Homo sapiens: one gene and its partners. The protein of the gene in region 1 purifies or fractionates together with the protein of each later gene. This does not show direct contact. Each region holds a gene or a part of one and is shown in the gene's direction. Other genes may lie near its edges. The genes, in order: NADK, SIPA1L1, KIF1C, SRSF12, GIGYF2, DCLK1 and NAV1.

The links.
Region 2: the proteins of NADK (region 1) and SIPA1L1 purify together in Homo sapiens (affinity purification with mass spectrometry, with the first as the bait; one large-scale study listed by BioGRID). This does not show direct contact.
Region 3: the proteins of NADK (region 1) and KIF1C purify together in Homo sapiens (affinity purification with mass spectrometry, with the first as the bait; one large-scale study listed by BioGRID). This does not show direct contact.
Region 4: the proteins of NADK (region 1) and SRSF12 purify together in Homo sapiens (affinity purification with mass spectrometry, with the first as the bait; one large-scale study listed by BioGRID). This does not show direct contact.
Region 5: the proteins of NADK (region 1) and GIGYF2 purify together in Homo sapiens (affinity purification with mass spectrometry, with the first as the bait; one large-scale study listed by BioGRID). This does not show direct contact.
Region 6: the proteins of NADK (region 1) and DCLK1 purify together in Homo sapiens (affinity purification with mass spectrometry, with the first as the bait; one large-scale study listed by BioGRID). This does not show direct contact.
Region 7: the proteins of NADK (region 1) and NAV1 purify together in Homo sapiens (affinity purification with mass spectrometry, with the first as the bait; one large-scale study listed by BioGRID). This does not show direct contact.

What each region holds. Positions count from the first base shown.
Region 1 is NC_000001.11:1,757,233-1,761,477, reverse strand, and holds part of NADK (NAD kinase), read left to right. Parts: intron 1-1,575; coding exon of another isoform or gene 1,576-1,744; intron 1,745-2,234; coding exon of another isoform or gene 2,235-2,377; intron 2,378-2,835; exon of another isoform or gene 2,836-2,946; coding exon of another isoform or gene 2,947-3,113; intron 3,114-3,343; exon of another isoform or gene 3,344-3,420; intron 3,421-4,167; coding exon 4,168-4,245.
Region 2 is NC_000014.9:71,666,278-71,670,522, forward strand, and holds part of SIPA1L1 (signal-induced proliferation-associated 1-like protein 1), read left to right. Parts: intron 1-4,245.
Region 3 is NC_000017.11:5,014,707-5,018,951, forward strand, and holds part of KIF1C (kinesin-like protein KIF1C), read left to right. Parts: intron 1-36; coding exon 37-131; intron 132-4,245. UniProt on the Homo sapiens protein: Motor required for the retrograde transport of Golgi vesicles to the endoplasmic reticulum. Has a microtubule plus end-directed motility.
Region 4 is NC_000006.12:89,107,612-89,111,856, reverse strand, and holds part of SRSF12 (serine/arginine-rich splicing factor 12), read left to right. Parts: intron 1-4,245. UniProt on the Homo sapiens protein: Splicing factor that seems to antagonize SR proteins in pre-mRNA splicing regulation.
Region 5 is NC_000002.12:232,699,981-232,704,225, forward strand, and holds part of GIGYF2 (GRB10-interacting GYF protein 2), read left to right. Parts: intron 1-604; exon of another isoform or gene 605-674; intron 675-3,443; 5' UTR 3,444-3,509; intron 3,510-4,245. UniProt on the Homo sapiens protein: Key component of the 4EHP-GYF2 complex, a multiprotein complex that acts as a repressor of translation initiation. In the 4EHP-GYF2 complex, acts as a factor that bridges EIF4E2 to ZFP36/TTP, linking translation repression with mRNA decay.
Region 6 is NC_000013.11:36,107,082-36,111,326, reverse strand, and holds part of DCLK1 (serine/threonine-protein kinase DCLK1), read left to right. Parts: intron 1-4,245.
Region 7 is NC_000001.11:201,824,453-201,827,869, forward strand, and holds the end of NAV1 (neuron navigator 1), read left to right. Parts: 3' UTR 1-2,517; downstream 2,518-3,417. UniProt on the Homo sapiens protein: May be involved in neuronal migration.

The sequences.
Region 1 (4,245 bases):
CAACAGTGATCGATCTGATATCTGTGTTTTATGTGTAAAGAATTATAATCCAGGCTGGGCGCAGTGGCTCACACCTGCAGTCCCAGCACTGTGGGAGTCCGAAGCAGGCAGATCACTTGGGCCCAGGAGTTTGAGACCAGCCCGGGCAACATGGTGAAAGCCCATCCCTACAAAAAACACAAAAATTGGTCAGCTGCGGTGGCTCACACCTGTAATCCCAGCACTTTGGGAGGCCAAGGGGGGCGGATCACGAGGTCAGGAGTTCAAGACCAGCCTGGCCAATATGGTGAAACCCCATCTCTACTAAAAGTACAAAAATTAGCCAAGCATGGTGGCGCGTGCCTATAATCCCAGCTACTTGGGAGGCTGAGACAGAGAACTGCTTGAACCCGGGAGGCAGATGTTGCAGTAAGCCGAAGATCGCACCATTGCACTCCAGCCTGGGCGACAGAGCAAGACTCAGACTCAGAAAAATACAAAAATTAGCAGGCATCGTTGCACACACCTGTAGTCCCAGTTGCCAAGGAGGCTGGGGCGGGAGGATCACCTGAACCTGGGAGGTTGAGATTGCAGGGAGCTGTGATTATCAAAGTGCATTCCGCCTGGGCGACAGAGCAAGACTGTCTCCAGAGAAAAAAGTGAGCTCCCAGCCAGCCCTGAGAGTCGTATTCTGCACCTGGTAGACATCCTCATTGCCTCTTCCCCAGAGAAGCCTTTGCTTCTGGGACTGGTGCCTCAGCTCTCAGGCCTCTGTGCAGAACGGGCTCTCTTCCTCTGTGCAGAACGGGCTCTCTTCAGGGCCTCCTCCTTCACGGAGTCATGGATGCTTCACTTTCTGCAAGGGAGGACCATGCGGAAGGGCCGAGTGTTCCAGCGCGCAGGCTGCTGGGGACTGTTGACCAGAAAGCGCAATGCGGCCGTGTGATACGGGGGCGGCCACTGCATGGCCCTTTGCTGACAGGCACCGGTGCCATGGAGGCTGGGGGCGCACAGCAGGGACGGAGGCCCCAGCCCTGGGCTGTCACCGAAGTTCAGGTCCCAGGAGCCACGGGGGAGTCATCCGAGGAGCTGCTCTGCAAAGTGTGGGCCCCGCGGCAGCGTGCGTCCCAGGCAGGACGGGGGTTGGCCTTGCTGCTCCAGACGCTGACGGAGCCCCTTAGGATGGAAGTGACTCGCACTTGTGCTTTTGAGGCCCAGCCCTTTCAGTGCCACTGGTTCCCGGAGTGTCTGTGACCTGTCACTGCTGCCAAATGCCTGAGGCGGGGGGCCCGACCCCTGTTTGCTTTCCCTCATCCAGTCCATCTGCAGATTCTGTCACTTTGATCCCAAAATATCCAAGCAGCTCCCCTGCACTATTGCCCGGCTGCCCTCCGCTGTGTGGACTCCTGACCACTCGCCGCGGCCTCACCATCCCTTCCCTGCACAGCAGCCACGTGGGTGACCCAGAGTGCTCCACTGCCCTCCCGGCCCCGCCGTGGCTCTGTCCCGCCATCCTGTGCTTGCTGTGTCCCTGGCACCCCACCGGGCCTCTCCCCCGCTGCCTGGTGCCCTCCCTGCACTTCCTGGTCCTGGCAGAGCCACTCCTTTGTCACTCGCATCTCAGCTGCTGCCTTCACCAGCCGTCAGTCACTCGGGCCAGGGCGGGGTCACCGGACAGGTGCATGTTCTGCCTCAGCCCTCAGACCAGGGCGTACTCAGTGGTCCCCGAGCTGCCCGAGGCCAGACAGCCCCGCAGGAGGAAGCGGTGGGTTTGTGGGGCAGCCTTGAGGGGCATGCAGCTTTCTCGGCACCCCCATGGGAGCACGCCCCCTCTGGGCTCTGTGTCTCTGGGATCATAACCTCCCGCTTCCCATCCCCGCTGTGGAGGGGCAGGGCTTCCCATGCATCTGAACTTCCGTCTTCCCTGATAGTCCAGAGCAAGACCCTGTGGGGGCGCCTGGTGAGGAGGGCACCCGCTTCCTGTTTTGTTGTCCAGGGAATTGGTGGGCCTGTGTTGTGGAGGTGCGTGAGTGCCCGTGTGTCACAGTGTGCGTGGCCACCCATGTGTGAGACAGTCTCAGTAGGAGCTGGCCAGGCGGGCCAGGCTGTGGCCATGCTGGCTTCACGCCACCCCCTGCCCTCTCCGTGCAGTACCCACAGCCGTGTGTGCCTGCAAGCTTCACGCCACCCCCTGCCCTCTCCGTGCAGTACCCACAGCCGTGCGTGCCTGCAAGGGCTGGTGTCCTGCTTTGCAGGTGACCCAGGAAGAGGTCGAGGCGCTGGTTTGTGGTCACACACAGCGGTGGGTGCCTGGGCCGGTGTACGACGCCGCTGCTGGTGGCTCTGGCTGGGCTCAGCTGAGCCTCAGGGCTGGAATGGGTGTAGGCCAGGCCACTGGGTCAGTGGTGACTGTTGGCGGGGAGAGCAGGGGGAGCCGTGTGCAGGGCGGGGGCTTTGCTGGCTGACCAGGCCGGAGGACCGTGAGCCACCTGCACGCCCTTGGGCCGGAGCCAAGCAGAGTGACGCAGCGGGCTAGGAGGCAGGGAACGCCCTTCCACCTGACTGTGGCCTGAGGGTGCCTTCCCTGGGGCCCAGCCGGTTCCGCGGGCCAGAGCGGTGGCTGGCGCAGTGCTGGGGCGAGGCTGGAGGCTGGGTACTTGGCCAGGTCTGAGGCCACGGGAACAGAGGGCTTGGTCCCACCCGGCTCAGTTAGGAGCAGGGAGCTGAAGTGTGGCCTCTTTGCTGCTGAACTGAGGACTTTTTTTCAGAAGGGATTAGGCAGGAGGACCATGTGACCAATGAGGAAACTGTTTTGTTTTGTTTGATTTTTATAAGTGTAGGAAGCTCTTTTGACTTAGTTGCTTTTACAACAACTTTACCAAGTCTCATCACAATTGTGTTTTGCTTTGAGTTTTGAGTATGAAGAGCTTAGGCTTCTAGTGTGGGCGCACAGTCAGGACCATACCGATGGGGCGGCCGCGTGTTCGCCAAGCGTGGCCTGGATGCTGTGGACACACTGGCCGGCTCCCAGCAGGCAGGGGCTACCTCGCGAGCCACATGTGTGACCCGGCAGGTGCTGAGCTCATAGGGGATGGCATGAGTGACCCCACGCCTCCCAGTAATGCCTGCACAGGGTGAGTGCTGACCAGCTTCCGAAGGTCACAAGCGATGGGCTAAGGTCTGTGGCCCTGTGGCTGCCATCGGCGTCTGTGTTGTGGTTCTGGGGGTGTTAGTGGGACGGTCACACTCCTGGGGAAGTCACTGCTGGGAAGAGGCATGGCAGGCAGCAGCTTTCTCGATTGGGCAACTTGGAACTAGCTGGCTGGCGCGGTGGTATAAGAACTTGTCCTTTGGGGCTGAGGATAGGCGGTGAGCGCTGACGACGGTGGCCAGCCCCGCTGCGCCCTCCCTTGGCTTCTGGGAACAGGAGCAGGCTCCGTGGTGTGTGTTCCCGGTTCTGGGCTGGGATGTTTTCTGTGACTAACGTGGTAATGGGAATCCCACCGGGGTGGGCCCTGCCTGTGGAGAAACACCGGGCACAGTGGTCGGGGTCAGAGCCAGCAAAGCGCGGGTGGCTGTGTCAGGGCTGCCACGGACTTTTAAACCTGTGATTTTTACTGTGAGAGTGAGTGAGGTTAAAGTCCGTTCATGCAGGGAGGTAGTGAGCTGTGTGCAGGGGGGGAAGCGGGTCCTTGAGGGGTCCTGGGCTCCCGTGGGGCCAGAAACTGTGTGCAGAGGATCCTAGGGACAGAGTCACCATGTCAACTGGTTTGGGTTTTCGTGGGGGCCTGAGGAGGGCATCAAGCAAAGAGTGGCCCAGCCATGGGCTTTCGTGGTCATTTCTGCCCCACCAGCGTCACTGAGGAGCCAGGCAGGCAAGTGGCCGGGGGCTGGGAAGGGCTGTGGTGCGTGCACTTGGGTCAGCGTGGTGCCCGGGTGGGGGTTGTGGGCCTGAGCCTGCGTGTGATGGGCCAAGCAGGTGAGAGGTGGTCACTCCGGACCCTACTGACCCCTGACCCTGTCTCTGTGGCGCGACCCTAGGCCCTGTGAGCCCGTGGCCACCGAGCACGTTTCCCTGGGAGGTGAAAACACCTTTTTAAAGATTTTTTTTTTTATTTTCTAAGTCATACACCTTTTCCGCAAGAGGGAGATCGCAGCTGGTGTGAACTCTTTTCTCCTCCCCTAAAGGCACATTCAGGACCCCGCGAGCCAGCGGCTGACGTGGAACAAGTCCCCAAAGAGCGTCCTTGTCATCAAGAAGATGAG
Region 2 (4,245 bases), on another chromosome or scaffold:
TCAGACCCTGAATAACTCTGCAGACACAATGCCCCATTTCTTCAACAAGTAAGTTGCAAGAAATAGTGAGGAAGTGGAGGGGAATCTACAGAATAAAACATTTTTTAAAGCTAAATTAATTGCAATGTGTGGATCCTATTTGGATCCCAATTTAGACAAAAAGACTATAAAGAAAATCCTAGGACATCCTAAACAATTGTAAATTGGAACATTGACACACTATTTGATGAAATAAAAGAGTTGTTATTCATTTTAAAACTAAAATAGTAATAAGTAGTCATAACAAGGACCCTGATTGTTCAAAACAAATATTAAACTGTGGTCAGTAGGTATGTTTAGGAAGGTAGAAATATGTGTTACTCCTCTCAGAGAGGTTTCCATACCCGGTAATTAAAATGTAATAACTGTTGAAAGGAATCTGTATGATATAGTACAAAAAGCACTTGGAATTAGACCAAATTGTTAAACAGTGCAGTGGGAAGTTGCTTGACATCCACTTAAAATCCTATTAAGTAAAATGTCTAGCATAGGCAGGGAGGAAGCGTGATGCATGTCCATTAAATGTCTGTGTTCATCCTCTTTCCTCTCTGTAAAAAAAAAAAAAAAAAAAAAAGAATTTGCAAGCTTCAGCTGAGAAGAAGAAAAATCCAAGTAGGTCAAGTGATAGAAATTTCTTTCAGAAGGTCTATTTCAAGCCTCAATTAATCAGCATCCCTATTGTCCACTGCAGCTGACCTTTCTAAGACAAGAATCTGATTATGTCATTTATTGTGCTTAAAAGCATTTAGAGGAAAGTTCAGACTTGCAAGCATAGCTTACTGCATGGGGGCTTCAGGTTTGGCCTCCTGTCTCTCAGTCTCATCTACCAGTCTGCACCCCATGCCTACCTCACTCCTTTGGAGCTACTCACCACTCCCCAGAACAGCATGCTCTGCCCCTCCGCTCTGCACATGCTGCTCCTCTCACACATTCCCCTTTCCCTCCATCTGATGAATTCCTGCTTTTCTTTTTTCTGAGAAGGCTCCCTGGACCTCCCAGGACTAAAGTGCCTTTCCTAAGTGCTACCAGTAGCACCCTGTACTTCGCAAGTAGGAGACTCAAATCACTGGCTGTGGCTCCCACCAGACTTTGAGTTTCTGGAGGGCTGAGCCCGGGACATCTTCAGCCTTGATCCTCAGCAAAGGCAAAGTGCCTAGCACATAGTAGGTACTCAGTGACTGGTGGATCAATACTATTAGAAATCGAGAGAATGATTGGCACGTGTTTGATCTTTCCTGTCCTTTGCCCAGATCTGCTTTCTTGGAAGCTGCCCTGGCCAGTAATCTGATTCAGGCTCCAAGAAGAGGAAACTTCCTTCTCCCATTTGATGTTTTCTGTATCACCTTCCTTTTAAATTTTGGGCTGGGGATTGTTGATTATTGCTGTTTTTCCATTGTGCTTCCAAAGTTCAAATGTCTTATATTTCTCAATTTTTATCCACTAAACTGTTCAGAAGTCTTTGAAACAGGCCGGGCGTGTTGGCTCATGCCTGTAATCCCAGCAATTTGGAAGGCTGAGGCAGGCGGATCATGAAGTCAGGAGATCGAGACCATCCTGGCTAACACAGTGAAACCCTGTCTCTACTAAAAATACAAAAAATTAGCCAGGCGAGATGGCGGGCCCCTGTAGTTCCAGCTTCTGGGGAGGCTGAGGCAGGAGAATTGCTTGAACCCAGGAGGCAGAGGTTGCAGTGAGCCGAGATCGCGCCACTGCACTCCAGCCTGGGCAACAGAGTGAGACTCCGTCTCAAAAAAAAAAAAAGTCTTTGGAACATTTTCATGTGTCAGCTTGAAGTTGGCTTTGGGTATCAACACTTGTTATTTCATTCAAGCTCTTTGATGCCAACCAATGTTACATGGCCCATATCGAGTAGAAATAGCCTCATCATCTCTTAGGCCATGTGACCCATGTGAATGGTCCCTTTTAGCAGGCACCTCAGGAGTAGGAGGTTTGAAAGCACTTCCTCAGAGGGAGTAAGTGTGGGCTTGTCGTGGAGCACTCTCTTGGCTGTCCAGAAGCTTACATTCCAATCCTGGCTCTCTCTAACAAATCTGGGTAAATCCTTTTACTTCTCTGTATCTGTTCCTGGAGAAGTGAAGAATTTGTACCAGCTGCTCAACCGGAGGTTCATGAAGATGTCAAACCACAGAATACAAACAAGACACCTTCCTGGTCGCTCAGTGTACCCAAAGATTTTGGAGTGAGAAGATATTTTTATATGAAAATGAACACAAATATTTTTCAGTAGAATGTAAAATCGAGGTGAATTTTCAAATGAAACCCAAAGATTTTACTGAAAGAATTTGAGGAACATTGAGTTCTGTTAAGTTCCCTTCCTGTGATAACTTTCCATCACTGTTTTAGCCTCTAGCTCTGTCTGTCTGTCATCTAGATAACCCTGCTGAGTAGAACATTCCAGTCCTCAACAATGCTGGGTAAATAAAGCATGGCTATGATTTTAAAGCATGTATTATTTCCAAGAAGACACAGAATTGCCAACTAGGCTAATATACATACAGCCAAGCAGAGGCCCTTTGGAATCTGCTTTTAAAAATACCAAGAACCGTTTATAATTAATATATCTTAAGTAACTACATGCAGCAAACTGAGATTCTAGAAAGGCTTTTTTTCTAAATATTCTGTTTAGCTTAAACCAGGCCTTATTATCAAGAGTTCAGAATTTGTGGCATCTAAATTAATGAGCTTTTAACCTTGTAGAAACCTTGCCAGTTTGATTTATCCAAAACAAAATCATTTATTTGAAAAGAGCATTCCAGGGTATCATCTTCCTCATCTTCTGTAAGGATTCTATTTCTGACTATGCGAAGCTGATTTCAGTGCCTGTATCATTTACCTCCCTACCACAGTGAATCATTGAAAATTATATGGTAAGGATTCAGTTCTTTTCCTCACAGTTCATTATAGCTGTTTCTAATTATTGGTAGGTTTTCAGTGTATGTTTGTCTAAAGTTCTATCAATTAATAAATGGATCTGCAGAAAGCCAGTTAGTTTAAGGGGCAAGTAGATGGAGGGTGCTTAAAATCACACCCCCTGCTAAACATTTTGCTCTCCTTATTTAAAATAAAATCACAGATATTTTCTGAGAAGGAATAACAATTTGAGTGAAATAGCAGATGAGAAGTTGCCAATTTTAAAGTGAAAGATATTAAATATTTCTGGATTCTTACAGGATTCCACTTAGAAAAATCTAGCAAACCTGGATTTCAGCATCTTTTGCTTGACTTTAAGAGAAAAATAACACGATCAAATTAAAATTATACAGCTGTCAGCGTTCAAGTCAGGCAGTTCACAATAGACAAGAAAAATTGCCTTCCTAATACATATTGGTATAATTAAGCCATATGGAAGTCTCTGAATTCTCTCCTCCAGTTAGAAAATGGAGTGTTGGTTGCCACTGTTCTTTGTCATGAAGTGAACTAGGTAGTCTTTTAAAAATACACTTGTAAAACCAACAGATAGGCCATCCCATGGCATCTTCTGAGCATGTAGCTTTTCCATTCCACCAGAAATATAATTTGCCTCCTGAGGTTGCTGATTTTTATTTTTCTTATTTTCACAAGAAATAACTATTTCTTGAAAAACAAAGCTGAATATCTTAAAGCAAACCCTTCCTAAAGAAAAAAAAGTGAAACAGAGCTCTTCAATTTTATTTGAAAGATGCATACTCTCTGATGATGCCATTTCTATTCCAAGAGTTCAGAAGAAACCGATTTTTTTATTGTTTCCCTAATACTAAGTATAATTGCATAATTTGTTCACTTTTAATTTGGAAAGAGCGATCTTCGATGTGTTAGAATCATTTCCAGTCATGTCAAACTTTACTAAAATCTTGGGAAATGATATAAAACACTCAACCTCTCTATTTCTATATCAACAACTTCCTTTGTTGTTTTAGGAGAAACTTACTTTTTTTCCTTTTGAGGTTAAAAATAATAAGTTATTACAAATGTTCATATGATCCTTTTCTTAGGCCCAATTTTAGGAATATATAGTCAGAAGAAATGACTGGAACAGGCTTTCTTATATCAATCTTGCTTAAAGGAATGGGAGAAGGAAAATATTTTTCTTAGAAATAGATTATCAGAATAAAATACCAAAAGGACCAAGGAATAGCTCAGTTTAAAAATATGATTTTAAAGCGTTGTTGCTATTACATAAAGATTCTCATACTATTACTCAGATTC
Region 3 (4,245 bases), on another chromosome or scaffold:
GCACATGCTCACAAACGTTGGCCATTGCTTCCCCAGGGTCGGCCAAGTAGATATGGACATCAAGCTGACCGGACAGTTCATTCGGGAGCAACACTGTCTGTTCCGGAGCATCCCCCAGCCAGATGGAGAAGGTAATGGCTGAGGGGGTGAGAGAGGCCAGACAGGGAGAGAGGCCCCATGTTCCACCCCACACACTGAACTCAGAGGTCTGGGTTGGGCACCAGGGAGTGCAGCCATATAAAGAGGGGATGTGGCCTTGTCCTCAGAGGGGCTTGGGGCTCATGGGTATGAATGGAGGAATACCACAGGCCCAGCCCTCTGCACCCACCCTGAGAAGACAGACTACTGTGTGGTCAGGCACTGGCGAGGGTTCTAAGGTAGAAATGGGACACTAGTGAGCCAGAGTGTGGGATTTTGCTGAAGAGAAGATCCTGCCCTTCTTGATCTTGTTCACCACAACTAGCACTCTGATCCTTTTTAAACAAAAACCTGTATTTGAATATCGGAACTTGTCCCTGTGGAAAACCTGCCTCTATCCAGCTATGACTGCCGAGATTTCTTTTTCTTTTTCTTTTTCTTTTTCTTTTTTTTTTGAGACGGAGTGTTCGCTCTTGTCGCCCAGGCTGGAGTGCAATGGCGCGATCTGGGCTCACTGCAGCCTCAACCTCCCGGGTTCAAGCAATTCTCCTGCCTCAGCCTCCCGAGTAGCCGGGATTACAAGCATGTGCCACCATGCCTGGCTAATTTTGTGTTTTTAGTAGAGACGGGGTTTCTCCCATGTTGGTCAGGCTGGTCTCGAACTCCTGACCTCAGGTGATCCGCCTGCCTCGGCCTTCCGAAGTGCTGGGATTACAGGCGTGAGCCACTGCCCCCAGCTTTTTTTTTTTTTTTTTTTTTTTTTTATCATTTGAGACGGAGTCTCACTGTTTCCCCCAGGCTGGAGTGCAGTGGCATGATCTTGGCTCACTGCAGCCCCCACCTCCCAGGTTCAAGTGATTCTCTTGCCTCAACCCCGAGTAGCTGGGATTACAGGCACGCGCCACCACACCAGGCTAATTTTTGTATTTTTAGTAGAGACGGGGTTTCACCATGTTGGTCAGACTGGTCTTGAACTCCTGATCTCATGTGATCCGCCCACCTTGGCCTCCCAAAGCACTGGGATTACAGGCGTGAGCCACTGCACCTGCTGAGGTGTATTTTTGAGGCCACCAGTTTGTTTTAGTTCTAACACTTAAAAAAAAATAGAATGATTTGGGTTCACATAAGCTCAAGCAAAGTCTCTGTGAAAATGAGTTGGGCAGGGAGGAAGGACGTGGTACACATGTGCTGTCTGTCAGCTTGGACCTGGTGTGTGTGTTGTGCCTCAGAGACCTAGGAGTGCTTGGCCTAACACCTTCCAGGGGACAAGGGACCTGGGGTGTGTATGGTCAGCACTTTTTTTTTTTTTTTGAGATGGAGTCTCGCTGTGTCGTCCAGGCTGGAGTGCAGTGGTGCGATCTCGACTCACTGCAACCTCTGCCTCCCGGGTTCAAGTAATTCTCCTGCCTCAGCCTCCCGAGTAGCTGGGACTACAGGTGTGCGCCACCACACCCGGCTAATTTTGTATTTTTAGTAGAAACAGGGTTTCTCCAACTCCCAACCTCAGGTGATCCTCCTGCCTTGACCTCCCAAGGTGCTGGGATTACAGGCTTGAGCCACCACACCCAGCCCTAATTTTTGTATTTTTAGTAGAGACAGGGTTTCACCATGTTGGTCAGGCTAGTCTTGAACTCCTGACCTTGTGATCCACCTGCCTCGGCCTCCCAAAGTGCCAGGATTACAGGCGTGAGCCACCGCACCCGGCCAGCACATTTTAAAAAATAACAAAAGACGCTATCATGTGCGTCTTACAGTGAGGTTTAAGACATACCTCTTGGGGCTGGTGGGGTGGCTCATGCCTGTAATCTTAGCACTTTGGGAGGCCGAGGTGGGTGGATCACTTGAGGTCAGGAGTTTGAAACCAGCCTGGCCAACATGGTGGAACCCCGTCTCTACTAAAAGTACAAAAAAATTAGCTGGGCATGGTGGCGAACGCTTGTAATCCCAGCTACTTAGGAGGCTGAGACAGGAGAATTGCTTGAACCTGGGAAGTGGAGGTTTCAGTGAGCTGAGATTGCGCCACTGCACTCCAGCCTGGGTGACAGAGTGAGACTGTTTCAAAAAAAAAAAAAAAAAGACATGCCTCTTCGGTTTCCATATGGTTCAGGGTCAGCCAATCAAGGCAGTTGTTCTGGTCTGGTTCAAGTCCTCAGTGACAGCAAATGCTTCCGGCATTTTGGGTTGAAAGCTGTTGAATCAGTTCAGCCCAGTGAGTTATTGCCAAGTTCCTGTTCTGCGGCAACCTCAAGCCATTTGCTGGGGGAGATATGAAAGCCATACAGGCCACCAAAAATACACCTCAGCAGAGCCAGCCCATGGGCAAGGAGCTACAGTGCGGAGAGATGACACCCGTGTGCAAGACTGACATAGGTCACAGTAAAGGCAGCCAATGATTCTGTGTTGCCAAGGGTGGGGATTGTGATGGTTTAGTCCCTGTGGGCCTTGGTTCTTTTTTTTTTTTTTTTTTTTTTTTGAGACGGAGTCTCGCTCTGTCGCCCAGGCTCGAGTGCAGTGGCGCGATCTCGGCTCACTGCAAGCTCTGCCTCCCGGGTTCACGCCATTCTCCTGCCTCAGTCTCCTGAGTAGCTGGGACTACAGGCGCCCCCCCACCACCACACCCGGCTCATTTTTTTGTATTTTTAGTAGAGACGGGGTTTCGCCGTGTTAGCCAGGATGGTCTCAATCTCCTGACCTCATGATCCACCCGCCTCGGCCTCCCAAAGTGCTGGGATTATAGGCGTGAGCCACGCGCCCAGCCTGGGCCTCAGTTCTTAACAGCAGATTTAAGACCTGGCCAGAAACAGGCAGAGAGGACGGGGGCAGCACAGACAGGTATGGATGTAGAAGAATGGTTTTTACTGACCATCTACTCTGTGCGTCCGCATTTTCTCACACAGCTCACAGGTGAGAGAACTGAGGCTCTCGGGGGTTAGGTGATTTGCAAAAGATGACACAAAATGGCAGAACTGGATTCAGACACAGGATGGCAGGCACCAGGGGCTGTGCTGTGAGCTCTGCCCTAGACTGTCAGATTATCATGGGTTCAGGGTAAGGCTGCCTGGGCCAAGCTGGAGCAGTCTTCTCACCCAGCCCCACTTTCCCTGCATAACACGTATTCCCTCCTTTTTTATTTTCATTTTCATTTTTATTTTTTGAGACAGGGTCTTGCCCTGTCACCCAGGCTAGAGTGCAGTGGCATGATCATGGTTCACTGTAGCCTCAACCTCCCGGGTTAAAGTGATCCCCCCACCTCAGCCTCCTGAGTAGCTGGGACTACAGACCTGTGCCACCACACCTGGCTAATTTTTGTACTTTTCGTACAGACAGGGTTTTACTGTGTTGCCCAGGCTGGTCTCAAAGTCCTGAGCTCAAGCAGTCCACCTGCCTCGGCCTCCCAAAGTGCTGGGATTACAGGCGTGAGCCACTGTGCCCAACCCTATTCCCTTTAGAGAGGACTTTAGATTATCTGCTTTTAAAAATATTAATAGAATTAAATGCCTTTTTCCCCCCCTCTTCTTTTAGTTTTAATAAATGGCATCTGGCCAGGCACAGTGGCTCATGCCTGTGATTCCAGCACTTTGGGAGGCCAAGGCGGGCGGATCACCTGAGGTCAGGCGGGTGGATCACCTGAGGTCAGGAGTTGGAGACCAGCCTGACCAACATGGAGAAACCCCGTCTCTACTAAAAATACAAAATTAGCCAGGTGTGGTGGTGCATGCCTGTAATCCCAGCTACTCAGGAGGCTGAGGCAGGAGAATTGCTTGAACCCAGGAGGAGAGGTTGCAGTGAGCTGAGATCGCACCATTGCACTCCAGCCTCCAACAAGAGTTTCACTCCAACAAGAGTGAAACTCCATCTCAAAAAAAAAAAAGAAAAAAGAAAAGCCATCCATCACGATTAAATGACTTTAGATTATCTTGTTTATTGTCTGTCTTACCAGACAGAAGTAAGCTCTATGAGAGCAGGGATTTTTTGTTTTATATCACCAATGTATTTCTGAGACCTAGTAAAATAGTGTTTGGAAGATAGTAGGAGTGTGGCATATGTGGGTTTGAATCAATAAATGAATTTTGTGGCATGATGGGAAATGAAGAAAAGGTGGGGATA
Region 4 (4,245 bases), on another chromosome or scaffold:
ACCCTGTCTCCAAAAACAAAAACACAACAAAACGTGTGAGCAAACTAGGAATAGAAGAGAACTTCTTAACCTAATAAATGTCAGCTATAAAAAACATAGCTAACATCATACTTAATGATGAAAGACAATGCTTTCCTTATAAAATCAGGAAAAAGAAAAGATTGCCACTCACAACCGCCAACGTTTTATTGCAGGTCCTAACCAGTGCAACAAGGCAAGAAAAAAGATATAAAATACAAAAATTGGAAAGATAAAAGTAACCATTCTTAGGTGACATATTTGCTTACATAGAAAATACTAGGGAATGAACAAAAAAACTGCTAGAACTAATAAGTTTAGTAAGTTATGAGGATATAAGGTAAATTTACAAAAACTTTATTTCTATATATTAACAGCAAACAATTGAAAACAATGACAATTTTAAAAAACAGTTGCATTTACCATAGCATCAAAAGGCATACTTACTTAGGAAAACAGTTAACAAAAAATGTGCAGAACCTTTGCACCAAAAACTACAACATATTTTCAAGAGGAATTTTAAAAGCTAGCATAACAAAACCCCATCTCTACTAATAATAGAATAAACAAGGTGTGCTGGCACATGCCTGTAATCCCAGCTACTTGGGAGGTTGAGGCACGAGAATAGCTTGAACCTGGGAAGTGGAGGCTGCAGTGACCCGAGATTGTGCCACAGTACTCCAGTCTGGGTGACAAAGCAAGATTCCATCTCCAAAAAAAAAAAAAAAAGACAAGTCTCACCCTGTCTTCCCAGACTGGAGTGCAGTAGCATGATCATAGCTCAGTGCAGTCTCAAACTCCTGGGCTCAAGTGATTCTTCTTCCTCAGCCTCCTAAGTAGCTGGGATTATAGACACCACGCCCAGCTAATTTTTTTTTATTTTTTGTAGAGATGGGGGTCTCACTATGTTGCTCAGGCTGATCTTGAACTCCTGGGCTCAAGTAGTCCTCCCACCTTGGCCTCCCAAACTGCTGGTATTGCAGGTATCAGCCACCATGCCTGGGCAACAGTGGGAATTCTAACACATGTTTTTGGAAATGTAAGTTGGTTGGGCCACTCTGAAGAACATGTAGTGAAGCTAAGGTAGGCATACCCTCCAGCCTACCAATTTCTTTGCTAGTGATACTGAAGCAGGAGAATAGGGTCTGGAGGCAGGGAACCTAAGGCCGATTCACAGTGACTTCCTAGAACTGAATCAAAAGGAGAACTCCACCTCTCTACACCCAAGTAACAAAAGGATCAGAGGCTACTCCCTTTGCACTGTATTACAGATAAAAAATGGAAAGTACCTCTGACTGGTCCCCTCCTACAACCAATCAGACTGGTCCCAGGCCAAGTCTTCATGTGTAACTTTGTAGCTTTGCTTCAGCCTCTAATTGGTCGCCTCCCTCCACCAGACTGGTGGTGGGCCAAGTCTTCATTTACATAGGGTGTAACCGAGTAACCAGTGGGAAACCTTAGAGGGTATTTAAACCCTAGAAAATTCTGTAACCAATGCACTTGAGTGGCTTGCTTGAGCCTGCTCCCACTCTGTGGAGTATCTTTTCATTTCAATAAATCTGTGCTTTCATTGCTTCATTTTTTCATTGCTTTGTGCATTTTGTCCAATTCTTTGTTAAAAATGCCAAGAACCTGGAGGACTCATAGGCAAGACCCTCCATTGGTAACAGAAGGATATAATATTTCTTTAAAAATACTGAAAATTATGGCAAGTATGTCAAATACGGAGAAAATAATTTTTTTTTTTTGAGACAGAGTCTTGCTCTGTTGCCCAGGCTGGAGTGCAGTGGCATGATCTTGGCTCACTGCAAGCTCCGCCTCCTGGGTTCACACCATTCTCCTGCCTCAGCCTCCTGAGTAGCTGGGACTACAGGCGCCCGCCACCACGCCCAGTTAATTTTTTGTATTTTTAGTAGAGATGGGGTTTCACCCTCTTAGCCAAGATGGTCTCGATCTCCTGACCTCGTAATCCGCCCACCTCGGCCTCCCAAAGTGCTGGGATTACAAGCGTGAGCCACCGCGCCCGGCCAGAAAATAAATCTTGTTGGTAGATACATGGGTGTTTATTATTCTCTGTACTTTTTTGAATATTGAAGTAGATCATACCAAAAGTGCAAAAATAAAACAACAGCTAACAGGTGAGGGAGTGGAGACAGTGAATGGGAATTGGCTCTTTTGAAAAGACCTGTTCCATCTGACTCCCATCACCCTTGGCTTCCAGACTCCAGACCTCTGTGGCACACAGTGCTGCAGCCTCCTCTTTTATATTATCTATGATCCCTTTCCTCTTAGCCACTACATTTGGTTGATGGGATTGGTTGTCTCAGAAGACCTTCATTTGAATCCTAGCTCTACTACTGGCTGTGTAGATCTCTGGGCAAGGTAACTTCTCTCACCCTCAGTCTCCTTAACTCTTAAATGGTAACAGTAATGTATTCTTTTTTCATTGATAGGCAAATATATATTGAGTACCTACTGTGTGCCCAGCAGCTACATTAGGTACAGAGATATGCTGGTGAAGACACCTGCTTTAGCAGTGATTCTTAACCTTCAGTCTCAGAATTGCCTGTGAAGTCCTGAAAAAATTAAACATAACTGGGCCTCACTATGGAAAACACTAATTAGGTCCAGAATTAATGCATCGGGTTGGGGTGCCTCTGTCTGTAACATCCCTTCACAGATGATTACAGTACTCAGGAGAGGTTGAGAATCTTTATGCCAGTCTATGGTCTGTGGGAGCAGGAATTGTGTTTTTCTTGTTTCTCATTATATTCCTAGAGCCTGGCACATGGTAGGTGCTCAATAAGTATTTGCTTAATTCTGAATAAGTAAAAGAAAAAAGACATTGTCACTGTCCTCAGAAACTAATAGTAAAACATGTTCTATGAGTGTTAAATGAAATAAAGTATGTCATAATGTTGACTGAGCTACTGGCAAAAAGTAGATGCTTAGTCAATTTTTGTTGAATCTTATATGTAATTTCTAAATCCCCATCTCTAGCCTTAGTCACTGGCTTCTAATAATTATATTAATACACACTAATTAATATGCATATAATCACAATTTTCTGTTGCTTATAGAACTCTTATCAGTGTTCTACCATCACCTCAAATACTGCATTTCTAAACCTGAAAGTTGCTTCTTTTGCCTCTTTTCTTCCTCCTTGATCTAGCTCTCTTCTAATTTTTGTCACTGACACCATCTTTTTTCCATTTGTCCAAGCTAGAAGCTTCTTAGTCATCTTTGAATCTTTATTTCTCCCGAGCCACATTTTATGATCATAGCTTGATGCTGAATCCCTATGATAGCACCATGAAGCAGTAGGGTGTAGTGGTTAAGATGGACCAGTATGAGACTGAAAATTTGATTTCTAGCTTTGTCACTTGCTGGCTCAGTGAGCTTAGATAGGTTACTCTGTCTGTATCACCTGTAATCTGCCTGTATTACCTGTAAATAACCTGAAATTCTGTCTGTATCACCCATAATCTGTCTGTATCATCTGTAAATAACCACAGGGAAATTGTAAGAATTAAGTGGTTGTAAGGTGAACACTGGCTAACATATAAATGCACTGTAACTGTTAGCTATTATTGCTAAATATTTTGTCTCTTCAGTTAAATTGTAGCTCCATGAAGATGAATATCATGCTGTTTCTTTTTTTTGGTACCCCTTCTGAAGCACCTAATCGCACTAGAAGGCACATAAGCAGGCTCGAAATACCTGTCAGATTTGGGAATACAGTAGTTACTTTGTTTTATGTTTAATATTAAAACATCCATTTTTCTTTAAAGCCTGATAAATAATTTTAGGACTTCTTTAGAATCTAATTCTTGCTATCTGAAAACAAGATTAACATAAACATGAAATTAAAGTGAAGCAAAATGAATGTGTTCTTAGTGAAACAATTACTTATTAGGTCTTATAATAACTTTCAGAGGTGGATATGCTGGGTCAGTGTTTCTGGAAATTAAGCATAACAACCACCTGGAGTGCTTGTAAAGATACAGATTTCCAGCCTCTAATCCATACTTCCTGAATCAGAACCTCCAAGAGAGGTCTGAGAATCTAGGGAGGTTTTTTTCGTGTTTTCTTTTTTTTTGAGACAGGGTCTCACTCTGTCACCCAGGCTGGATGGAGTGCAGTGGTGTGATCTTGGCTCACTGCAGCCTCAACCTCCCCATGCTCACTCAGGTGATTCTCCCGCCTCAGCCTCCCGAGTAGCTGGGA
Region 5 (4,245 bases), on another chromosome or scaffold:
ATTTCCTTCCAGTTTATCTCCATATTCTTTTTACTGAGCTTTCATAAATGTCCTCTTTCATTTTAGTTCAGCTGAGGAATTTTAATATTTTGGTTTTGAAATGCTTTTGCTGGTGAGATGCATATGTGAAAAACACTTTGGAGTAGGTTTGCCTCAAAATCATGAGAAGATGGAAATTACAAGGTCAGTGTGTGAATGCAACTCCTTGGCTAAAAGGGAGGCATAGTGATGGTAGTGATGAGGTAGTGTTTTAACTAATTGCCTTTCTTCCTCTTGTTTTTCTATTGTGTTTTTGAAATGACATTTCCAAATTATGTCTTTGATGTCATATCAGCTCATTTGTTTTCATGACTCTGCATTTTAATACTCCATATTGTCTCTTCTCTTTTTGTTGACCTTCACATTGGAAGATGACACTGTTGATAGTGATTGCTATCTGGGAGAACCTTTTTGGGTAAAAAGATTACTACTGTCGCTTTTATGATTGCCCTTCTGTAGGATCTTTGACTTGTGCCATTTTCAAATTTTGACTTTGTTTGCAGTTCTCCATTAGCTCCTGCTGATTAAATTTCCCATACTTTCTGTTTTATTCTATTTCTTATAGATTATAGTGGGACCAGTCTCATTAGGTTGAATCTACAGCCTATGTTGGTGTTAACCCAGGTCTCTTAGAGGCAAGTTAAATGTCCATTTTCCTTCAGTTTAAATTACCATGGCATATTGTTTGGTCATTGTTGTAACAGTCTGAACTCAAGCTTTTTTTCACTGCTTGATTCCCACTAGGGTTTTGTGGTGATAAAGTCCTATGGTTTTTGCATGGGAGAGTATTTAAGAATAAAAGGAAAAATATATAAAATGAAAAAGAAATAGAAGTTTAAAATAAGATAAAAAAGTCCTAGAGTTTCCATTCATTTTTAATACTTTGAAAAATTACATCTCTTTAAAACTAGAGATTTTTATTTCATGTATAAACTTGCTTATAGTTAGCATTGCAGTGTTTCTTGACCAAATATTGTTTTTACATTTTATTCATGCTCTCAGATGAATGAGAAATATACTAAATTAATTATGTAGGAATGTAAAGTGATACCTTTATTGAATTGCCTATAGTTTTGTGTGAGGTTGAAAGCAGAAAGAGGTTTGAAAAACAAAGAATGTTCTCTTAATTGACCAAACTTCATTTTATAAAGGTATTTCAAAGTATTACATACTTCCCTACTTTAAGTAAATAAGGAACACAATTTTATATTTTCTTGTTAACTATGGGGTTTCATTAAGCTTAATTATTATTATTATTTGAGATGGAATCTCACTGTGTTGCTCAGGCTACAGTGCAGCGGCCTGATCTTGGCTCACTACAGCCTGTGATAGAGCAAGACCCTGTCTCCTGGGGGTTTGGGGTTGCAGTGAGCCGTGATTGCACCGCTGCGCTCCAGCCTAGGTGATAGAGCAAGACTTTCTCCAAAAAAGACAGGGTCTTGCTCTGTCACCTAGGCTGGAGGGCAGCGGTGCAATCACCACTGACTGTAACCTCAATCTCCCAGGCTCAAGCCATCCTCCCACCTCAGCCTCCTAAGTAACTGGGATTATAGGTCCATGCCACCACATCTGGCCAATATTTTTTGTAGAGATGGGGTCTCACTATGTTGCCTAGGCTGGTCTTAAACCTCTGGTCTCAAGTGATACTCCCGCTTCAGCTTCCCAAAGTGTTGAGATTATAGGCATGAGCCACTGTGCCCCACCAAGAATGCAATTTGAGAAAGTCACATCCACTTCTGATTTAATTTTGCAAAAAAAGTAGCCATGTTATAATGTCCAAAGGTCATCCAACTTTACCCACTGAACTGTGTAATTTTTTAAGGGCAGGAGGAAAGGGAAGAAGAAATGGATAATAAACTCTTCTTTGGCTGGGTGCAGTAGTTTACACCTATAATCCCGGCACTTTGGGAGGCTGAGGTAGGAGGATCACTTGAGCCATGAGACCAGCCGGGGCAACAGAGAGAGACCCCCATCTCTAAAAAAGATTTTTAAAAAATTAGCTGAGTATGGTGGTGCACGCCTGTAGTCACAGCTACTCAGGAGGCTGAGCCCAGGAGGTCAAGGCTACAGTGAGCTCTGATTGTACCACTACACTCCAGCTGAGGGAACAAAGCAAGATCCCATTTTGAAAATAACTGGCCGGGTGCAGTGGCTCATGCCTGTAATCCCAGCACTCTGGGAGGCTGAGGTGGGTGGATCACTTGAAGTCAGGAATTTGAGACCAGCCTGGCCAACATGGCAAAACCCTGTGTCTACTAAAAATACAAAAATTAGCTGGGCATGGTGGTGCACACTTGTAATCCTAGCTTCTCGGGAGGCTGAGGCAGGAGACTTGCTTGAACCTGGGAGGCGGAGGTTGCCTTGAGCCCAGATCGTGCCACTGCACTCCAGCCTGGGCAACAGAACGAGACTCTGTCTCCAAAAAAAGAAAAAAAACTCTATCTGTCTCTATCTAGTTGCTTTCCTGTAGTTAATGAAATTGTCAACTTTAATTGTTAATTATTGTTCTTTGACTTGTTAGTAGCAGTAAAGCATCATTTGATTTTAGCCAAGAAACTATTTGAAGATACTATACTTCAATTCACTCTTGTCACTTGGAATATCACCAACTTATGGATTTTTAAGATATTGCCCCAACAGAGCATTAAAGGCAGGTTGTGATTTTGCACACTTGGAGCTTTGCTCCCTGGACATTTTGGCAATGATCATATTTCTGAGGGCTCAGTGATTATTTGCATAGGATGCATATTGCTGTGATGCGGCTTTTGTTTTTCTGTTAGATATATATTTTTTGAGATAAGGTCTCACTCTGTCACCCAGGCTGGAGTGCAGTGGTACAGTTGCAGCTCACTGCAGCTTTGACCTCCCTGGGCTCAGGTGATCCTCCTACCTCAGCTTCCCGAGTAGCTGGGACTACAGGCATGTGCCACCATGCCTGGCTAATTTTTGTAGAGGTGGGGTTTTGCCATGTTGCCCAGGCTGGTCTTGAATTCGTGGGCTCAATCGATCACCTTCCTTGGCCTTCCAAAGTGTTAGGATTACAGGCATGACCCACTGTGCCTGGCAGTAGGTTTTAAAAGTTAATACCAAGTCCCTATAATGGGGTTTTGAATGAAAACCCCAAATAATGACTTCCCTGAAACCCCATGGTGGTCTTCATTTGACAGCTTCATAAGAATCACTTAGGACTTTTGTTAAAAAATATAGTTTTCAGTCCCACTGTAGAACTACTGAGACTTTCTAGATGTTAGGGAACCTAGTTTATAAATACACCAGGTGATCTACTCTTTTAACCAGGTTTGGAAGCCATTTTCTGCAAAGTATATTTATGATGAAAGATTGTACTTTTAAAGTTTCCTAAGAGGTTGCTGGGTGATTTATATTAATATTTTTATTATTTACAGCGTTAAAAGGATCTGAACAAAGTCTGCTCAAATCTCCTGCTGTGAACCAGCAGAATTTTTGAACAGGTAAGTGTGGAAGGGAAGCACAAAGCCTGAGGGCTTTTGCAAATAGGTAATTTCTGCTTTTAGGTTTTAGTTATTTTTGCCCTATTATTTCTCCTGAGGTTTTGGGTAGTGAGAAGAAACTTCTTCCCTGGTGCCTGTCAGATCCTTTATGAACAGTAAGAGTAACATACCCTTTCTGCATTGACCCTGGTGTGAATTTGTGTCTTAAACTGTCATAATAATTTTTTGTTGGCAAGAAACAAGGAGGAATGCTTTGGAGGCAGGAGTACTGTAAAGAACCAAAGAGCAGTTGACTTCATGAGGGACATGAACCAGAAACTGGGAAGCTTTCAGGAGCCATAGTACTTGTAGATAGCACTTTTTTACCAGCTGGCCAGTGTCCTCTCTTGTCTCTTTTTGTCCTGCTTTAATTGTATTTGTGCAGTCTGGCCTTTTCTGCTTTAACAAACACAAACTCATGGTAGCAAATGGCCACTTAATTCTTGGAGCCACATATGAACTTAGGCTCTAGTGCCAGTAGCCAATTGATGCTAGCACAGTGTTCACATTTCATATTCTTGGGAGGGGGAAATTTGGCTGGTTGAACTTGGTTCGGTTCTTTGTCATTGATCACATTAGTTATGGACATAGGGTTGGAGTCTAGAAGTGCAAGCACAGTTAGCTGAAAGGTCCCACTCCTAATGGTGGGGGCAGGTCTCAGAGAAGGTAGAATGGTGACTATTCTAGGTGGACTCCC
Region 6 (4,245 bases), on another chromosome or scaffold:
TTCAGTGTTAAAATGAAAGGGAGGTTTTTCAGCTACAGAATGAACATCAGTTGACTTGGATGGGTGGTCATTTTAATGTGAGTTGGTCAGATGAACCCAAAGGAAGCATCACCTTTTATTGTCTTGGGTGGACTATTTTTGTACAGGTTTGACAGAACCTTGATGGTGAGTTGAATTAAAAAACATTGATTAGGGCCGGGCACGGTGGCTCACGCCTGTAATCCCAGCACTTTGGGAGGCCGAGGCAGGCGGATCACGAGGTCAGGAGATCGAGACCATCCTGGCTAACAGGGTGAAACCCCGTCTCTACTCAAAATAAAAAAAAAAAATTACCTGGGTGTGGTGGTGGGCGCCTGTAGTCCCAGCTACTCAGGGGGCTGAGGCAGGAGAATGGCGTGAACCCGGGAGGCGGAGCTTGCAGTGAGCCGAGATCGCACCACTGCACTCCAGCCTGGGTGACAGAACAAGATTCCGTCTCAAAAAAAAAAAAAAAAAAAAATTGATTATATGTACAGCATGATTTGCTAGTCATTCAGAGTTTACCAGATTATACTTTTGAGCACACTATCTTTGCTGGAAGTTTAGTTTTTAATGTGGTGCTATCAAAATGCTTTTTTAAAAAATTTTTTTTGAGGGATAATTTGAATGATTTGTATGTATAGTAAATATTAAAATTAAAATGATCCATGAATTAAAAGATTGATCTTATTAAATAGAAGACTCCTCCAAGTTCTTAAAGGCTAGCGCATTCAAACTTTCTGAATTAGAAATAGATGCTAATCCTAGAAAGAGTATTAGTCATGAAAGAATACTTCCCTTAGGGATCCATTCAGATGCTCTAAATTATAAAATTCATTAGGAAAGAAGGAATATGTGCCAGTTGTTCATTTGTATTTACCATCTTTTGCTTGGCTTATAACCCTTGCCCTAAGTAATATGCGGATAAGGATTCTAATGGATGAGATTCTCTAATGAATGAGACTTAGTCTTCTATATTTAAGAGTCTGTAGCCTAAATGTCGTAAATCTATCAATGACCAGAAAGTTCATGCTGGCTTGTGAATTATAGTAGCAATAAGATGGCAAACTTCACCTTTACACATTTTGTAAGCCCTTCACTGGCTCCATTTCTAATGAGTTATTCAAACATCTTGTAGTTCTGAATTTTCATATATTGAATTTTCTCAAGATGGGAGTTCATCTATTTTCATAAATATTTACCTATTCAAATAAATATTTTTATAAAGTGTCTCATTAGAGCAAAGAATACATATGGATAAATGTTCCCTCTCCCTGCTGCACTTCAGAATTTTGGGAGTTCCAAAATGCTACTCTGAATCTAAAAATCGGCTTTAATGACTTTAGCTAAAATTTGCCATCAGCTGATTATTTAATTTTGTTTATTTCAGGAATAAATCCCTACAATAGGTATGATGTTCTCAGTTGTTTTCTTCCTTACTGAATTTGTCTAGAATTAATATTTGATAATGGCTAGTTTACTGTGGTTTACATGTAAATAATCCAAAGTCATGGGACGGAATCCGAGGTTTAATGTCAAAAAACCAGGATTCAAGTCTTGGCTCAGCCGTAGATTCCTTATGTTTTTAGCAAAACACTTAACTGAGCTTCATTATCCTCATCAGTGAAACACAGATAAAATGATTACCTGTGTTTTATAGAGTGCTGTGGGTCAACTATGATGATACATGCAATAGCAATTTTGAACTATAATGATGATAGCTTTATTGAGCATTGTTCAAAGTGCTTTGCATGTATTAGCATGCTTAATCCTCATAACAACTTGCTTATTATCCCCATTTAACAGATTAGAACACTAAGGCACAGAACTCGTTAAAAACATGCACAAGACCACACAGCTACGATTTAAACTGGTCTTGCTCCAGAGCTTGTGCTGGTAACCACTGTACCACTTTAGATTATGTTAAGGCACCAAACTGATGTAAATGTATTGAGAAAGAATTGTCAAGGGAGTAATTTGTCCAAAGAATATCATCTGAAACATTTCTGCTCTGTCCTTTTTTTCCCTGCAGTCATTCTGCTGACTGTTGTACTCAACTGTTGTTTTGTCAAGCGTTCAGTTTGCTGCTGTGGCATTTCCCCTAGTGTTGGCATGTTCTCTTCATAGCAGGATCAGTGAAAAGCTGCAGAGGAATTGGATGATAAAGTGGAAAGAACATAAAGACTTATTCGTTGGGTTCCCAGTGAGAACAAAGATGCTTCCTCATGGACCCCAGGAGTCTTTAGAATCTTTTTGGCTCAAAAGAGAAATCTGTCCCATAAGCAGTTTGTTAGAGTAGAATTTTTGACAACCCTGGCAGAGACTGAGGCTTGATAAGCCTCTGAGAATAAATCAGTTTCCTCCACGCTGTCCTGTGGAATAACGCTTGGCCATAGTGGGGTGGCACCTGCACTGCTACCATCTTGGCCTGCCTGTGGTGGCATCGGGGTCCATATGCTGCCAACAAGATGCCACCCTAAGATTACTTGTCCCACCTTTTTAAAAAATAGTTTAACTGAACCCTCACATCAACTCCATAAACAATATGGGAATTCCAGTGCCCAGTAAAGAATTTCATGTTTTTGGGTTGAGGAAATAGAATTGTTTAAAAAATGAATTGCTTGAGTGCTTTGAGTAAATGCGTAGAGAGGAAGATGGTTTTGTAGATTGCCTTGGGGCAGCCTACAGATGTATCCATGGCATGAAAACTGTTGACGCTGGGATTTTGGACAATGGAACCATGAAAGCCGGAGCCTGCTGTTTAATATCTTACCCAGAGGAGACGGACACCGGAGGGCACAGACCACATGCTGTTCTCACTTGTTTCTACCACCACTCCTTGCTCAGTTGCCTCTCGGGTTTGTGTTAGCCCTAAGCAAAGAGTTCATTGAACAGTACTTTTTTTGATGTTTTTAGACTGAGATAAGGAAATAAACGTTTTGGAAATGCTGCACAATCTAGAAAAGATTTTGCAGGAAGCTGCAATTGGCCAAGATGACCGTTGTGGTTCATAAGCAGCCTATGTGTGAGCAAACCCTTTCTAATGATTTCAACTCCATTCTTTATTCAGGGGCACTGAAGCTTCAGCAAATGGTTGCCCCGACCTTCCTCCTCTTCCTTGCAACTTTCAGGGTGACTGCTCACCAGGTCATCAGTCCTTTTGCTGGCATGGCTGGCAGTTCAAGGAAGCACTTACCATGCCTTAATTTCAGTGATGCATTTTTTTTTTTTTTAAATCTGGGCCTTGGTTAAAGACCTCCAAAGAAGAAAAAGGGACATTTTCTAGCTAACAGTTAAAATCATGTCCCCTGAACCCATGTCCAAGGGGAGGATCTGCAGGATCTTAGAGTCTGAGAGTCTCTTCCTCTTGCCCAAGTCCAAGCTCTGGATGTTGGAACTTTGCTGTGGGTTATTCACTTAACCTGCCAAGCAGTTACTCCCAGAGGCCATTTGGAGTATAACTATTTTTTAAGTGCTTAAAATAAGACTAAAAGTTACCAGATTTGCTACAAAGATACCCTTGCATATCTCCTGACTCCTTTTATGGAAAAGCAAATCTGGCTTTCTTGAGCTGCTAAATCTGTGGTTCTTGAATCCGTCCTTAGAAACATAGAACAGCTAGTGCCTAAGTAGGTGATTTATACTATAAAGAACATAGATAGGGCACTTCCCAATGATCCCCTTCCCACTGAAATACAGCAATGACAAACTGGATTGCTCTTTAAGTAGAAAATAAATGCACATCCCTATCTTATCTACTTTTCAACATCAAAGATCTGTACAACATTGCAGCATGCTTTAGTGAAGAGAAAAAAACCCAGAGATGTTATATTTTTATCTTATAGACATTTCACATAGGCCATGTACTTTATAAAATCTACCACTGCTAGTGAGTCGAGATCGCGCCACTGCACTCCAGCCTGGGCGACAGAGTGAGACCCCGTCTCAAAAAAAAAAAAAAAAAAAAAAAAAATCTACCACTGCTAGCATGCTAGAGTGAGCAAACAATTTATTGTTTTCCCAATATGGAAAACATTAGGAATTACTCAGCTGAAGTATGGGTAGCCATAAACTGATTTCGATGGTAAGCCATGAGAAAGCATCATAACTGCCATTTTGAGGACATCCCAGTAGCTGTTGATAAATTAATCCATCATTACATCTTCTCTGTATCTTTTGATCATGAATCCTCATTGCCTGTTATAAAGCTCAAAAGATGCTTGTAAA
Region 7 (3,417 bases), about 200 Mb from region 1:
CGGATATATGGGGCCACCAGGGTGCATGGGTGCATGTCTGCTCAGCCTAGCCCTGGAAGTGAGCACTGCCGGCCACAGATCCTGGGAAAGGTGGTAGTAACCCAGAAGATGTAGCCTTGAAGGGAGGATACCTATCAAAATGCCAAAGCTGCAGGGACACGAAGACGGTTGAAAATTCAACCTGTGTATACTAGATCCTTCCAGTTTGATGGTTTGGTCATTCTTCTTCATGATTATACCATGGAGAATTTTCTGTGACAAGGGTGGTCATGGAAGTAAGTGAGTGATCCCCTGGTTTCTCATTCCTTAAAGCAGTGGTTCGCAAAGTATGGCACAAGACCAGCAGCATCAGCAGCCTTTGGGAACTTGTTAGAAACGAAAATTCTCAATCCCATCCCAGATCTGCTGAATCAGAAACTCTAATGAGAGGACCCGGCAATCCACGTTTTAATAAGCCCTCCTGGTGATTCTGATGCACACTAAATTCAACTGTTTTAAAGGGAAAGCCCTTTATAGTATTGGAGTTCCCACACTGAGAGGCTTTGGGGCCCAAAATAAGAAGGTTCTAGGTTGTCATTCAGACTTTAACATTAATTTCAAAGTCACCTTTCTCATGCTTCCTTGTGTTTCTGTTTTTCCATTTATGATTTTAACAAAGAAAGGTATGTGTGCTTTTGGGTGGAAGTTAGGAGAATGTTTGTGTCTTTCCTAGTTGAATACAACCTTCAGAGAAAAACCTTATGCCTTGGAAATTACTACCTGGCACACAAAGGGGCTTCAACAAGGAAAAGCAGTTGGAGGTCTCTTCCAGATTGCTCTTCTGCCGAATTATTTGTATCTATTCCGAGCTGATTATGTAATAGGATGGAAAAAGTAAAAAAAAAAAAAAAAATCTAATTTGTATTTCCATGACAACGTGTTCTCCCAGCAACATCCCTCTCCTTTATTTGAGTTATAAAGGGCACTGCTGGGCCTGAGAACCAGGCCAGAACCTCCTTCTGTATGGCAGCTAACAGTGTAGGGCTCCAGTATCCCAGGAAGGCCCCTTATCCACACTCCACTCAGCTCATAGGAGAGTCTTGCATAATGAAGACACAGACCTGGGCACTTCAGTCCTTGTGCTCCTCCTCTCTTTTCCCCACAGCAGGACCTGGATACAGAAGTACTCAGCCAAGGTGACAGAATAAAATCCTTTTTTTGTTGTTTTCTGTTTGTTTGTTTGTTTTGGAGAAGGAGTCTCGCTTTGTCACCCAGGCTGGTGTGCAGTGGCACGATCTCGGCTCACTGCAACCTCCGCCTCCCAGGTTCAAGCGATTCTCCTGTCTCAGCCTCCTGAGTAGCTGGGATTACAGACGTGCGCCATCACGCCCAGCTAATTTTTGTATTTTTAGTAGATACGGAGTTTTGCCTTGTTGGCCAGGCTGTGCTGGAGCTCCTGACCTCAGGTGATTCACCTGCCACAGCCTCCCAAAGTGCTGGGATTACAGGCGTGAGCCACAGCACCCTGCCAAATAAGATCCTTTTTAAAAAATATCTGAAAAAAGCTTCATATCTTTACAAACTCATAAAATAGCTGATTGGGCCATGGAGGAGATGAGGCTGTTTAGAACTGGTTTTGTTTCAAGTTTGTCAATTTTCCCTGTATGAGAACTTGGGTAAAGCACAAAGAAACATACAGTGCTAGTAACAGGTCTCCTGCGCCCTGGAACTAAGTGTTTGGAGGAAGGACTAAACCCCGGGGGAGGTGAGTATAAAATAATTCCACTAAGATCACCTCCTCAGTCCCCAGAAGGCTGATGGTGGATCCTCTGGCCATCTCCTGTGGGGTCTTACTGCTCCTCTGCCATTTCTCTATGCCTGAAGACACGAAGATGATATCAAGGCAGAGCTACCATATCGCAGCCAGTCTCTAGGCTACTGCTGTGCAGTGGCTCCCACTTTCTAATGCTTTTTTGTTTTTGCTTTTTCTAACAAAACAATCTTTTTTCAAAATGAATTCCAACCCCTGCTAGCTTCCTTCCCCGCCTCCATACTGTTTTAGGCAGCACCGTTTATGTGACAGAGTCCGTGTTTCTCAAATGCATGGTGTTCCTCAGGTGGAGAGTGGGCAGAAGTTTTTGCAACACTTTTTTTTTAAGTTATTGGGTGCAAAATCCCAAACCAGGATATGTGTATGTCTGTGTGTTTATGTTTTTTATTTGACCCTCCCCTCTTTCAACCTACCCCCTTTTATATCTAATGTAGAAAAAGCGAAATTGAATCTGGAAAGCAAACTGTTGTATATAGTTGCGGTAACAATCATGAAGAGAGAGCCGGGCTGTCCCCTCAGTAATTCATTTTAAATAACAAATTATTTAAAAATAAAATTCATGCCAGAGCCAGCTGAAGAGGCCTTCCTTCATCACCACTGAGGCCACCCCCAATCTGGGCCCTCTGTCCATCTGGCATGTCTCCTCCCAGCAAGATTCATCTGTTCAATGCCATTTGCGTTTCAATAAAGTTATCTCCTGTACTGTCCACTGGTTCTCTAGCTCCCTCTCTGCCTGGTTTCTGTCTCCATTTATCTTGTGGCCCATTCCTTGATTGGCAAGGCCAGACTGCTTGTGGTCATTTGCCTAACCCAGAAGTAACCTGAAACCCTAAGCTAGAGTCTCCTGACTCCCATGGTTGGGGGTGGGAGGAACCCCTGCTCGCACATTATGGACATAGAATCCTTCACCGGATCTCAAAACATCCAGCCCAAACATCAAGGCTCCGGAGTCCTCCATCTGGGTTGCTGCAGTGTTTGAAAACATACCACCCTCTTGACTTTGCTAAATTTTCTTCTTGGGGTAAAAGTGAACTGACCTATTAGAAGCTGTTGTAATCAAGTTCAACTTCTTTTGGCCACTTCAAGAAAGTAAATAGGCTTACTATTCCCCATTGCAAAATTGAAGGGTCCAAGAAGCAATCTTTTCCCTATGAAATTGTAGTAACATAACTCATCTCTGCCCTCTTAACATGGGAGGTGACAAGTGTGTTGAGAACTCTCTTCAAGCCAGTTGCAGTGGGTGTACCTGTAGTTCTAGCTACTCTGGATGCTGAGGTGGGAGGATCACCTGTCCAGCCTGGGCAACATAGCAAGACCCCCCCAACTCAAAAATAAATAATTGAGAAAGCTTTCTTTTGAAGTAATCTTCTGATGAGATGACTTAATCCCTGATTGTTACCAGTCCAGCATCCACAGTCTTGGAAGTGACCTAGGATTTGGTAACTCGTTTCCTTTGCCATGTGAGAATGAACTCACTTGATAAGGGTTCCTGGGAACCATTTTGAAGGCACATAACCTGAACAGCTCACTAAAAAATACCTGTTTCTGTTTGCTCTAGAACCTCCCATTCCAACAACATTCTATCCTTTCTGCCACTACATGCTTGC